Homo sapiens: one gene and its partner. The protein of the gene in region 1 purifies or fractionates together with the protein of each later gene. This does not show direct contact. Each region holds a gene or a part of one and is shown in the gene's direction. Other genes may lie near its edges.

Region 1 (7,301 bases):
GATCAAAATGGGATATTTAACAGTTTAGTCTTCCATTTCATTTGAAGCTCCCTAAAATCACTCTTGCTGATAAATTTGTTTTTTCCTTCACACCTCAGTTTCATGGGATGTTTTGGCAAAAATCTGAATTTTCTGAATTGAAAGAATTTTTTGCTAAGGGTCATCAGTATTCATGCAGGGCTTGTTATTCTGAGTCACTAAGAGTTTCCTAACACAGCCTTCTCTCATTGAGATGATGTAACATCTATTCCATTAATTTCATTAACTTGCTTACAAGAGAGTAATTGTTCTGCAAATTTTTTTCTTCCCAGTTTTAGGTACCTGCTGCTTATTGTGGACACACATAGAATTTTATGTATTATTTTTCGACTTAGGCTAATGATTTAGCAAACTCTGGAATGTCAGCCCTAACCCCAACCTTGGTTTTCTGTCACATGCATGTAGTAAGTGCTAGATCCTGGACATTCTTTGAGATTTAGTTTAAGACTAAGTTTATTTTCTGATAGGTTATTTGTGTACTTTCATGGATTTTGTAACTCTTTTTCAACAATTGGATGTCTCAGATCTCAGCATATGGGAGCAAGTTAATGCTTCCTGAGATCTTTGCCAAAGGTCAAGAGGTCATTTTTGTGTATTTATAATTTTCCATCATTTTTATATACTTCTCAATATTCTTTTTAAACTATTCTTTTCCTTTTTTCATCCTCTGAATACTGTTTTGACAGATCTTGTTATTAGCATGCTTTCACGGATGAGAAAACTAAGAAAGCTGAATGATTTGCCCAAAGTAGTCCACCTGGAAAATGAAAGAGAGAGGATTCCAATCCAGGTCTTACGATTCAAAAGCCTGTGCATGTTCCATTTTTAGTACTTTCCACACTGTATTTCTCAATGTCTTTCTGGGACATTTTATAAATCATATTATATCACCTCTAAGGATCTTTCAGTTTGTTATATATGTGTCTATTAAGTTAGATTGTGAGCTCCTAAAAGATAAAGCATTGTCTTATTCATCTTTAAATTTCTCAGAGCCCAAATAGTGCCTGGAACCTAGTAGTTGCTCAATAAAAGGTATTGAATTTACAGGATTGAATGGTGACATCAATGAATAATTGAAGATTCCTTAAGCTGATAACTGACCCAGTAGCATCATTGATCATTTAATTGCCCTGGACTTACTTATTTTCCACCACACTACATATTTCTGTATAGAATATATATAGCTCATTGTATTGCAAGATTTAACTAGAAGAAAGAGTTCATGCTTGCTTTGTCCATGGAGGTTTAACAGGAATGAATTGCTAAACTGTGGAAAATGTTTTAAACAAATGCATCTTATCCTGTAGGAAACAAGCTATATTGAAGACAACTGCAATCAAAATGGTGCCATATCACTGATCTTCTCACTCAAAGAAGAAGTTGGTGCATTGGCCAAAGTATTGCGCTTATTTGAGGTCAGTGCTACAATCATGTTTGTCTTGGATAATGTCGTAGCAAACTTCCATGTTCTTTTCTAGTTAGATGCAATGAAAAGAACACAGGATCTGGAACAGGCAGATTTGAATTTGAGCTCAAGTTTTTACATTAACCAACTGTGTGACCTTAGTTAAGTCATTCAATCTCTCTGAGCTTCAGTTTTTCCATTCATAATATAGTGCTGATAATATGTGCCTTGTCAGTTTCAACAGGAACTTTGTGATGAAATAATGTGTTTTGTAAAATGCCTAATCATATGTGTGATTAGGCATGATTAACTATAAGTCATATGTGACACGTGATTACATTTCACATAACATGTAATCACATGTGTCACATGTGATTACAGTTAAAGAGTAAACAAGAAATAAATATTAATTCTTTTATTCACTAAATTAATATTGATTGTCTTCTATGTATAAGTGTAAAATAATATGCAAGACACCGTCCCTTTCTTCAAGTAGCTTAACCCAAAACTATGCTTTAGAAAATAGCTAATGTTCTTCAAGACATTGGTAAATGTCTTATGATTAAAGTGGTTCCATAATTAATAAACTTGGGAAATTCGGGCATATTATTTTACCTGATTTCTTTATTATAGGACTTTTAGAGTCTATAAAACTAATTATACTAAGTTGTTTACAGAGAGAAATGTATGTATTATTTTCCAAACTTACTTGACTGTGGATCCTTTTTATTTTAAGAACATGTATTCACATCTGGGAACAGAGTTTAGGAAACGTTGATTTGGGTGTTTGCTGGGCAGCCAAACTTCACAGAACTCCAAATAGGTTTCCTCAGCCAGATTCCTTCCGAGTACTATGCTAATATTTTTGGTGGGATTTTGTCCCACCTGAAAATACATTGCTTTATGCTAAGATTCCTGTGACCTCTCTAGCTGATTGGGAGGCAGGGGTAGCACATTGGTCAGGGCTGTGCACATACTTAGTGCTCAGTGTGTTTGGGCATGCAATCAACAAATCCTTTTGGGGCATGACTGGATACGATTAGATATCTTGTGAAAACCTATGATGTTCTCAGCACTGTGGGTGGGGAGGAAGATGGGGGACACATAGAAATTGTAAGGAAGAGAAACTGCCTCCTTTAGGATCTAACAGGGGAAGCAAATATTCTGAGCAGCTGGGGAGGGAAGGCAGAGCATGAGAAGTTATCTCAGTAAAAGGTAGCTTTATAGACATGATCTTATTCAGTCTAATGAAAATAACATGAGGTAGGAGCTATTTCTGCCCCCATTTTTCAGAGATAGAAACTGATGCTTAGAGGGGTTAGGTAAATGTGCCCAAGGTCAAACAGCTAGTAAATACGGAAGAAATCATTTAAACCCAGGCATTCTGAGTCTAGAACCTACATACACTCTTAACTGCTATTCAGTACTGCCCCAGACAGAACGGGCTTCATAGTTTGCAGGGCGCAGTGCAAAATGAAAACGTGGGGTCTCTTCCTCAATAACAGGAAATAATGCTGTTAAAAGTACTAAAATATATAACTTTATCCTTTCTTCTGTGGTCTCTCTCATGTCCTGTTATGGTGTTTTTGATTTGCCATTTAGTTGTGCTCTCCTCCCCTGGGCACCTTGGCCCTCTAACTGCTGGGTTCCCTGTCCAGCCAGGGCTGGGCTGACAGCCAAGCCCCTACCAAGGATGGGGAAATCCATCTTCCATTTCCGTGGACCTGCTGCACCAACCCACAGTGATGAGCTATCCCCCAAGAGATTGTAACCTCTGGAATGAGAATGGAAAGGAAGCTTGCCTGAAGCCAAATCACCCACCAAATCCCCTGCCAGATCTCCCAGGGTTGGCGGAGAGTGGCAGCAGAATATAAACTTCCCCCCAAAGCCCATGCCTCCTGGTCATGACTCTGGGCAAAGGGCAGTAGTGGTGGTGAGGTAAGACCAGGGAGGGGAAGGCTGCGTGGGTCCAGAGGGCCAACGTGCTTGAAAGCAACCCCTTAGAACCATGGCTGAGAAGGTAAGGAGAGGGCAAATGGTGTGATTACACATGAGCTGAGTCTCCAAATACCCAGCATGTGCTTCATTGTCCCACTGGACTTTGCTTATGAAACACAAATTCAAAAGTCGTTATTAAGAATTTCAACTCACGCCTGTAATCCCAGCACTTTGGGAGGCTGAGGCTGACGGATCACAAGGTCAGGAGATCGAGACCATCCTGGCTAACATGGTGAAACCCCGTCTGTACTAAAAATACAAAAAATTAGCCCGGCGTGGTGGTGGGTGCCTGTAGTCCCACCTATTTGGGAGGCCAAGGCAGGAGAATGGCGTGAACCCTGGAGGCGGAGCTTGCAGTGAGCCCGGATCGTGCCACTGCACTCTAGCCTGGGTGACAGAGCAAGACTCCCTCCCCAAAAAAAAAAAAAAAGGAATTTCAAGGAGGTTGCAAAGAACATGAAACCCCAAGTGTGATTCCTGTGGTATGACAGTGGTTGCATATCCCAGAAGCTGGCCCTGACCTCAGACCTCTTTTATCAAGCTTTCCCTGAATTAATTACAATCTTCTCAGTGTTCCCAAAGCACTTCTTACTTTTAACTGCAGCACTTCCTTGCGTGCTCAGCATATACATTATGTCTAGCCCTGAGGATGGTTTCTTCAAGAAGAGAACCTTGTCTCAGTCATGTTTATATCCTCAACAGAACCTGAGTTTTATATATGTTGTGTTCAATTAAGAATGAAATTCAATCTAAAGAAAATTTTTTACCTTAATAAATATTTTTAAGTTAAAAAAATATTTTAAAAGTATCTTTTCACTTTTTGAGCCAATTAATTTTGTTTTTTGAGACAGAGTCTTACTCTGTCACACAGGCTGGAGTGTAGTGGTGCGATCTCAGCTCACTGCAACCTCCGCCTCCCAGGTTCAGGCGATTCTCATGCCTCAGCCTCCCCAGTAGCTGGGACTACAGGCACATGCCACCATGCCCAGCTAATTTTTATAATTTTAGTAGAGACAGGGTTTCACCATGTTGCCCAAGCTGATCTGGAACTCCTGGACTCAAGTCATCTGCCTGCCTTGGCCTCCCAAAGTGCTGGGATTACAGGCGTGAGCTACCAGCCAGGGCCAATTAATTTTTACCCTGAGTTTTTAAATATAATTAAATCTTGTGATCAAATATATGAATAAGTAGAGAAAAGATAGATCTCCTATTTAGAGTTCCAAATAATTTAAGTAGTGGGTTTTTATAGTGACTTTTTTTCCAAAAAGTACCACATGGAAGGGGGAGAAGAGTTTCTTTACAGTGGAGAAATATGACAAAGACACCTCAGCCATGTGACCAAAATCAACATTATTCAAAAAGAAACTGAATATTAAAACAAACCTTTCCTTAATAGTAAAAAAAAATTAAAATTAAAATTAACATCATCAGTGATGTCATGTTGATGGTATGCATTCTTGGTAGGATGAAAATGGCACATTACCCCTGTGGTCTTCCTCCACACAATCCATAACCTCCATCTAACCATGAGAGAAAAAATCAAATGAATCCTAATTGAGGAACATTATCCAAAATACATGACCATTACTCCTGAAAACTCTCAGGGTCATCAAAAACAAGTACTGTCTGAGCGACTGTCACAGCCGAGAGGAGCTTAAAGAGGCATGAAGACTAGGGCCAGGCACGGTGGCTCACGTCTGTAATCCCAGCACTTTGAGAGGCTGAGGCGGGAGTATCACCTGAGGTCAGGAGTTTAAGACCAGCCTGGCCAACATGGTGAAACCCGGTCTTTACTAAAAACACAAAAAAATTAGCTGGGCATGGTGGCAGCTACTTGGGAGGCTGAGGCAGGAGAATTGCTTGAACCAGGGAGACAGAGGTTGCAGAAAGCTGAGATCACGCCATTGCACTCCAGCCTGAGCAGCGAGAGTGAAACTCTGTCTCAAAAAAAAAAAAAAAAAAAAAGAGACATGAGGACTAAATGTAACGTGGTATTTTGAATGGGATCCTAGAACAGACAAAGGACTTTAGATATAAACTAAAGAAATTTGAATAAAGTATGGTCTTTCGTTTATAACGTGCATCAATATTGGTTCATTAATTGTAACCTATGTTCCACATTAATGTAAGATGTTCATATGTTCATAATGGGGGACACTGAGTCCAGGTTATGTGGAAACTCTGTGCTATCATTTCTATTTTTTCATAAATCAAAATTATTCTTTAAAAACTGCCTTAAAAAATTAAACCTGGGGGAGGAGAATGTATGTCTGAGTGAGAGCAAGCGAGCAATGGGTGTAGAGAAGAGAGACAGCATTTTCTGAGCAACAAACTGTCCATGAGAAAGAATATATCTGTAAAATGCACCTATGTAACTTTTTAGCTTTTATATTAGATAATCAGCATTTTCTCCTTGAGAGGTTGCCCCTTAGGCCTAAGTCAGAGTTAATAGATTAAATAATAGTAAATGAACAGAATGTTTTCAACCTAATAAATAAACGACAAGTAACTAAATTACCAGAATTGGATGGAATGCACTCAAGACATGTGTGTTTGTGTGTGTGTGTGTGTGTGTGTGTGTCGGGGCTGCAGGGGGTGGTAGGGAGGGGGGCGCATGCATGTATGTGAACTCTGGGTGAACTCTCTGAAGCATTATCCAGAATCTCAACTGCACAGGTCAGTAAGTGATGTTATTACACCCATTTTACAGAAGAGGAAACAGAGGTCACTGTATTGGGTGATTGAAGAAGGGTTGTTAGTGAGTATTGATTTTTTTTTTTCCAAACATACTTCAGAAGTTGCTGTATAAATTGTATAGGCCAGTATACTTCTCGCCTTAGTAACAGCCTGGCAAAATGTTAAAATCACTCAAAGTGCTGAGTTAAGGCTGGGCATGGTGGCTCACACCTGTAGTCCCAGCACTTTGGAAGGCCAAGGCGGGCAGATCACTTGAGGCCAGGAGTTCAAACCAGCCTGGCCAAAATGGCGAATCCCCATCACTACTAAAAATACAAAAATTATCTGGGCGTGATGGCGCATACTTGTAATCCCAGCTACTAAGGTGGCTGAGGCATGAGAATTGCTTGAACCCAGGAGGCAGAGTTTGAAGTTAGCTAAGATCACCCCACTGCACTCCAGCCTGGGCAACAGAGTGAGACTCTGTCCGCCCCCTCCCTCCCCACAAAAAAAAAAAGAAAAGAAAAGAAGGAAAAAGATGCTACGTTAAGAGAGAGAATCAAATTCTAGTATTTGTGGAACCGCATTATGCAATGAGCTGGGCACATATGACTCTTCATTTAATCCGCATTAAACTAAGTGAAGGTGGTACTCTCACTTTATGGATGAGGGAACTGAGGTTCAGAGCGGTTGAGTAATTTGCTCAAGATCACACAGCTAATGTGCAGTGGAAATGGCATTGAACTCTGAATCTCAGATTCCGAAGCCCATGATCTTTCTATTACACCCCACACCTCTGCCAAATACAGCTATCCCTGAACATCTGAATCACTCTGGAGTTTTTTAAAAAATGCAAATATCCTGGTCCCAGTCTCTCATTCTTGGGGTGAGGGGGCAAAAGTACCTGTCTCTGGGTATTTTTTCTTTCATATTGAAAAATGCATTTAAATGCAAGACAATTAACTACTAATATTCCTTCCATCTATTATCAACCGCTGTTAACATTTGGACATATCACTTTCATTTTTTCCTGTGTCATTGCAGTTTCAAATATTACAAATTAACATATCATTTCTTAAGAAAAAAATTAGAAGATAAAGCTACAGTCTTTTCTCATCTCTCCTCTATCCTGATCATTCTAATTCTACAAACTTTCTAGCCAAGACAGCATCATTATGAGTTT
Region 2 (3,575 bases), on another chromosome or scaffold:
CCTCTTCACACGGCCTGAGGTGCTGGCACCCGAGGAGGCCTGGTGAGAACAGAGCAGCAAGTAGATAAGGGGGCAGGATGGAGAAGAGAGAGACTTGCTGGTCCTGACCCAATCTCTGTCCCCACCAGGTACTGCCCACAGTGCAAACAGCACCGTGAGGCCTCCAAGCAGCTGTTGCTATGGCGCCTGCCAAATGTTCTCATCGTGCAGCTCAAGCGCTTCTCCTTTCGTAGTTTTATCTGGCGTGACAAGATCAATGACTTGGTGGAGTTCCCTGTTAGGTAAGCAGTGGACCTTGGTAACTGTGGGTGGGGTGTGAGGACCAGGATGGGCATCCTGAGCGCCTGTTGCCTGTCTCACCCCTCCCTGACTGGACCTGACCTGCAGGAACCTGGACCTGAGCAAGTTCTGCATTGGTCAGAAAGAGGAGCAGCTGCCCAGCTACGATCTATATGCTGTCATCAACCACTATGGAGGCATGATTGGTGGCCACTACACTGCCTGTGCACGCCTGCCCAATGATCGTAGCAGTCAGCGCAGTGACGTGGGTGAGGGCACACACAGCCAGCAGGATAGGTGGTAGGGGTGGTGGTGCAGACTTTGTTCACACTCTTCCCACCCTGCTGTAGGCTGGCGCTTGTTTGATGACAGCACAGTGACAACGGTAGACGAGAGCCAGGTTGTGACGCGTTATGCCTATGTACTCTTCTACCGCCGGCGGAACTCTCCTGTGGAGAGGCCCCCCAGGGCAGGTCACTCTGAGCACCACCCAGACCTAGGCCCTGCAGCTGAGGCTGCTGCCAGCCAGGTGAGGCATGTGGGAGGCTTTACAGAATACTGGGGGACAGTTCACAGACTGGGGCCGGGTTGGGGGATATAGCTTCCTCTCCTCCAGCCACAGGCCCATTGAGCCTTGGGATTCATGAGAATTGCAGAGTTCTCTTAACATCAAAGCTTTAGCCAGAGGCATCCCCATGCCTTGGGGACACTAACAAACATACAAGTACACTAACATGCTGCCACTGGCAAGCACATTGGCACCTACTTGGCACAGGTCAGGCAACTGCTCTGAACCTCACTGGGCACTATGCTGTGAATGAACTATACCTGACACTCTCCTAGATTTCCTCTGCACATTCCCCACATGCTGGCCCACACACCCTCACTTGTGATGTCCCTGAGTTCTAGTGTGCACTCAAGACAAGGCCTATTTGGGCTGGCCATGGCCTCTGGTGGCTGTTATACTCTTTGAGGTAAGCATCTGTCTTTGCTGAGCCTTCAGGATCTTCTCTTTAGTGACATGGTGTGCCATAGGCCCAGTTAGTGGGCGTAGGCACATCTCTTTTCTGGACTGGCCGTCTCCTTTCTGGCTCCATCCTCTCTTGAGCCTTCTCTGTCAAGCTTAGAGAAATCCTTGCAGAAGACTGGTCAGGATCTGGGTATGGGTGGGAAGGAGCAAGGAGATTGCTCTGGGATTGGCAGTCCTGTTCTCTATGAATCGGTGTCCTTTGGGGAGGCCTGGACTGAAATACTAACCAGATAACTCCCCTCCCACCTCCATGCGGAGCTGCATGTGGATTGAGAGCTGTTTAGGGTAGGCCAAAATGCTGTCAAGATTCTCTTACCCTTGTGCTCTTACTCTGGACAGCCCTGAGGTTGGCTGCCTGCCTTCCTCCTTGCTGTTTGATCTAGAATGCAGGGTGTTAGCCCCAGTCACCCCAGGTGGGACTGTCATGGCTAAGGGTCTCAGGGACACTGGGTCCTCCCCACCCCCGGGGTGCTGATGGCCGTTTCCACATACCCTAGGCTTCCCGGATTTGGCAGGAGCTGGAGGCTGAGGAGGAGCCGGTGCCTGAGGGGTCTGGGCCCCTGGGTCCCTGGGGGCCCCAAGACTGGGTGGGCCCCCTACCACGTGGCCCTACCACACCAGATGAGGGCTGCCTCCGGTACTTTGTCCTGGGCACCGTGGCGGCTTTGGTGGCCCTCGTGCTCAACGTGTTCTATCCTCTGGTATCCCAGAGTCGCTGGAGATGAGCTCGCCTGCAGGCAGCTGCTGTGAGCTGGCCTACCTGCCTGCCCCAGGCCATGCCTGCCTTTGTTGTGGGGAACACCTCTGGGCTTTGGGCCTCAGCTTATGCATCTGGTGGGAGAGGGTGGGGAGGTTGTGGCCCCTGCAGGGGCAGAGTATCCTAGGGTGTGTATCCATCTGGCTGTCTGTCCATTCATCCTGCTGCTCTGACCCTTGGCCTCAGGCTTGGCCCTGCCCAAGCTACTTCCTGTACTTAAAAGTGTTAATAAAACCAGACTATTCAGGCCCAATCTCGTCTCTCTGTCTCAACGCCGCTGCTGTCTGCGCCTGCCTTGGGACCCTCCCTTGGGTGCCAGGGCTCCAAGCCAGCACCCCCGGGATGCCAGGCGGCATGCTGGGCAGCCCCCAACCCCTGTCCTCGTATTCTGTTGCAGGGACTAGGCCCTGGCCAGGCCCCCGAGGTGGCCCCCACGCGGACAGCCCCTGAACGCTTCGCCCCCCCTGTGGATCGGCCAGCCCCCACCTACAGCAACATGGAGGAGGTGGATTAGCAGGTCCCTGGCTGATGGGGGGGACTGGGTTTGGGACACCCACACAGAGGGCCAGCTCCTTGCCGCTTCTCCTTCTCTAACCCAGAGGACACTGGCTCTGTCAATGGGAAGCTGAGGGGTATGATTTGGGTGTGGAGACCTCTCAGGTTGGGACTTCTTGTCAGCTTGGACCCCTGACCAGTGGGCTTTGGCTTCTCCAGCCGCCTCCAGTGCTGCGTGATTTGATTCTGTTGTACCTTCAATTCTTCTGACCCGCATTATAAACATTATAATTTTATTCTAAAAATTGTAATTTTTTTTGCATTTTGGAAGTGACTGCTGCTGTTTAAATATATTTTAAAAATAAATAATAAGTAAGTAGACTTAGTGACTGTGATCCACCACATGCTGGGGCCACCTCCCCTCCCCATCATTTGCGGTGTGTATGTGTGTGTATGTGTGTTTATATATGAGAGACCCTGAAAGTGCCCTAGTCTGAAGGGAGATGATGGGGTCCCAGCTCATGTCCTATGGGTCATGAAGCCCCCAGTGCTATCAGCTTTTTGGAGCCTACCTGCTGCTCTTTCATCCCACTGGTTCTGGATCCTACATAAGAGGCAGCTTGGTAGGCATCGTCAGGATCTCAATATAGCCAAGGGACAGAGGAGTATATGAAGCACTGGAGCTGACAGCGTGGAGTAAAAGGTGCATTCACCAGAGCAGCCTGGGGCTGACAAGTCAGGGAGGACTTGGGGGACAGAAGTACTGGGAGATCTTCCTCCTCCTCTCCTGTCCTCAGCTTTTTCTTTGCTGTAACTTGAACACTAACTGCATCCCTGCAGGTAACAGAGCAGGAGGAAAACTGCTGTGGGGCAGATCTTGCTGCCCTGAAAAGAGGACAAGCAGAGAGGACCAGAGTGAATCTTGTCTGACTTCTATTGGAGGGAGGGTGCTGGGGCCTGCCAGCCTGAAGAGTCTTCCCTTAAGAGTTCCTGAAGCCTTCCTTCTTTGGCCAG

The links.
Region 2: the proteins of PAH (region 1) and USP19 purify together in Homo sapiens (affinity purification with western blotting; 2 studies listed by BioGRID). This does not show direct contact.

The regions. Positions count from the first base shown.
Region 1 is NC_000012.12:102,906,944-102,914,244, reverse strand, and holds part of PAH (phenylalanine-4-hydroxylase), read left to right. Parts: intron 1-1,346; coding exon 1,347-1,454; intron 1,455-7,301. UniProt on the Homo sapiens protein: Catalyzes the hydroxylation of L-phenylalanine to L-tyrosine.
Region 2 is NC_000003.12:49,107,417-49,110,991, reverse strand, and holds the end of USP19 (ubiquitin carboxyl-terminal hydrolase 19), read left to right. Parts: coding exon 1-42; intron 43-128; coding exon 129-281; intron 282-387; coding exon 388-548; intron 549-629; coding exon 630-808; intron 809-1,806; coding exon of another isoform or gene 1,807-2,034; exon of another isoform or gene 2,035-2,319; intron 2,320-2,463; coding exon 2,464-2,580; 3' UTR 2,581-2,942; downstream 2,943-3,575. UniProt on the Homo sapiens protein: Deubiquitinating enzyme that regulates the degradation of various proteins by removing ubiquitin moieties, thereby preventing their proteasomal degradation. Stabilizes RNF123, which promotes CDKN1B degradation and contributes to cell proliferation.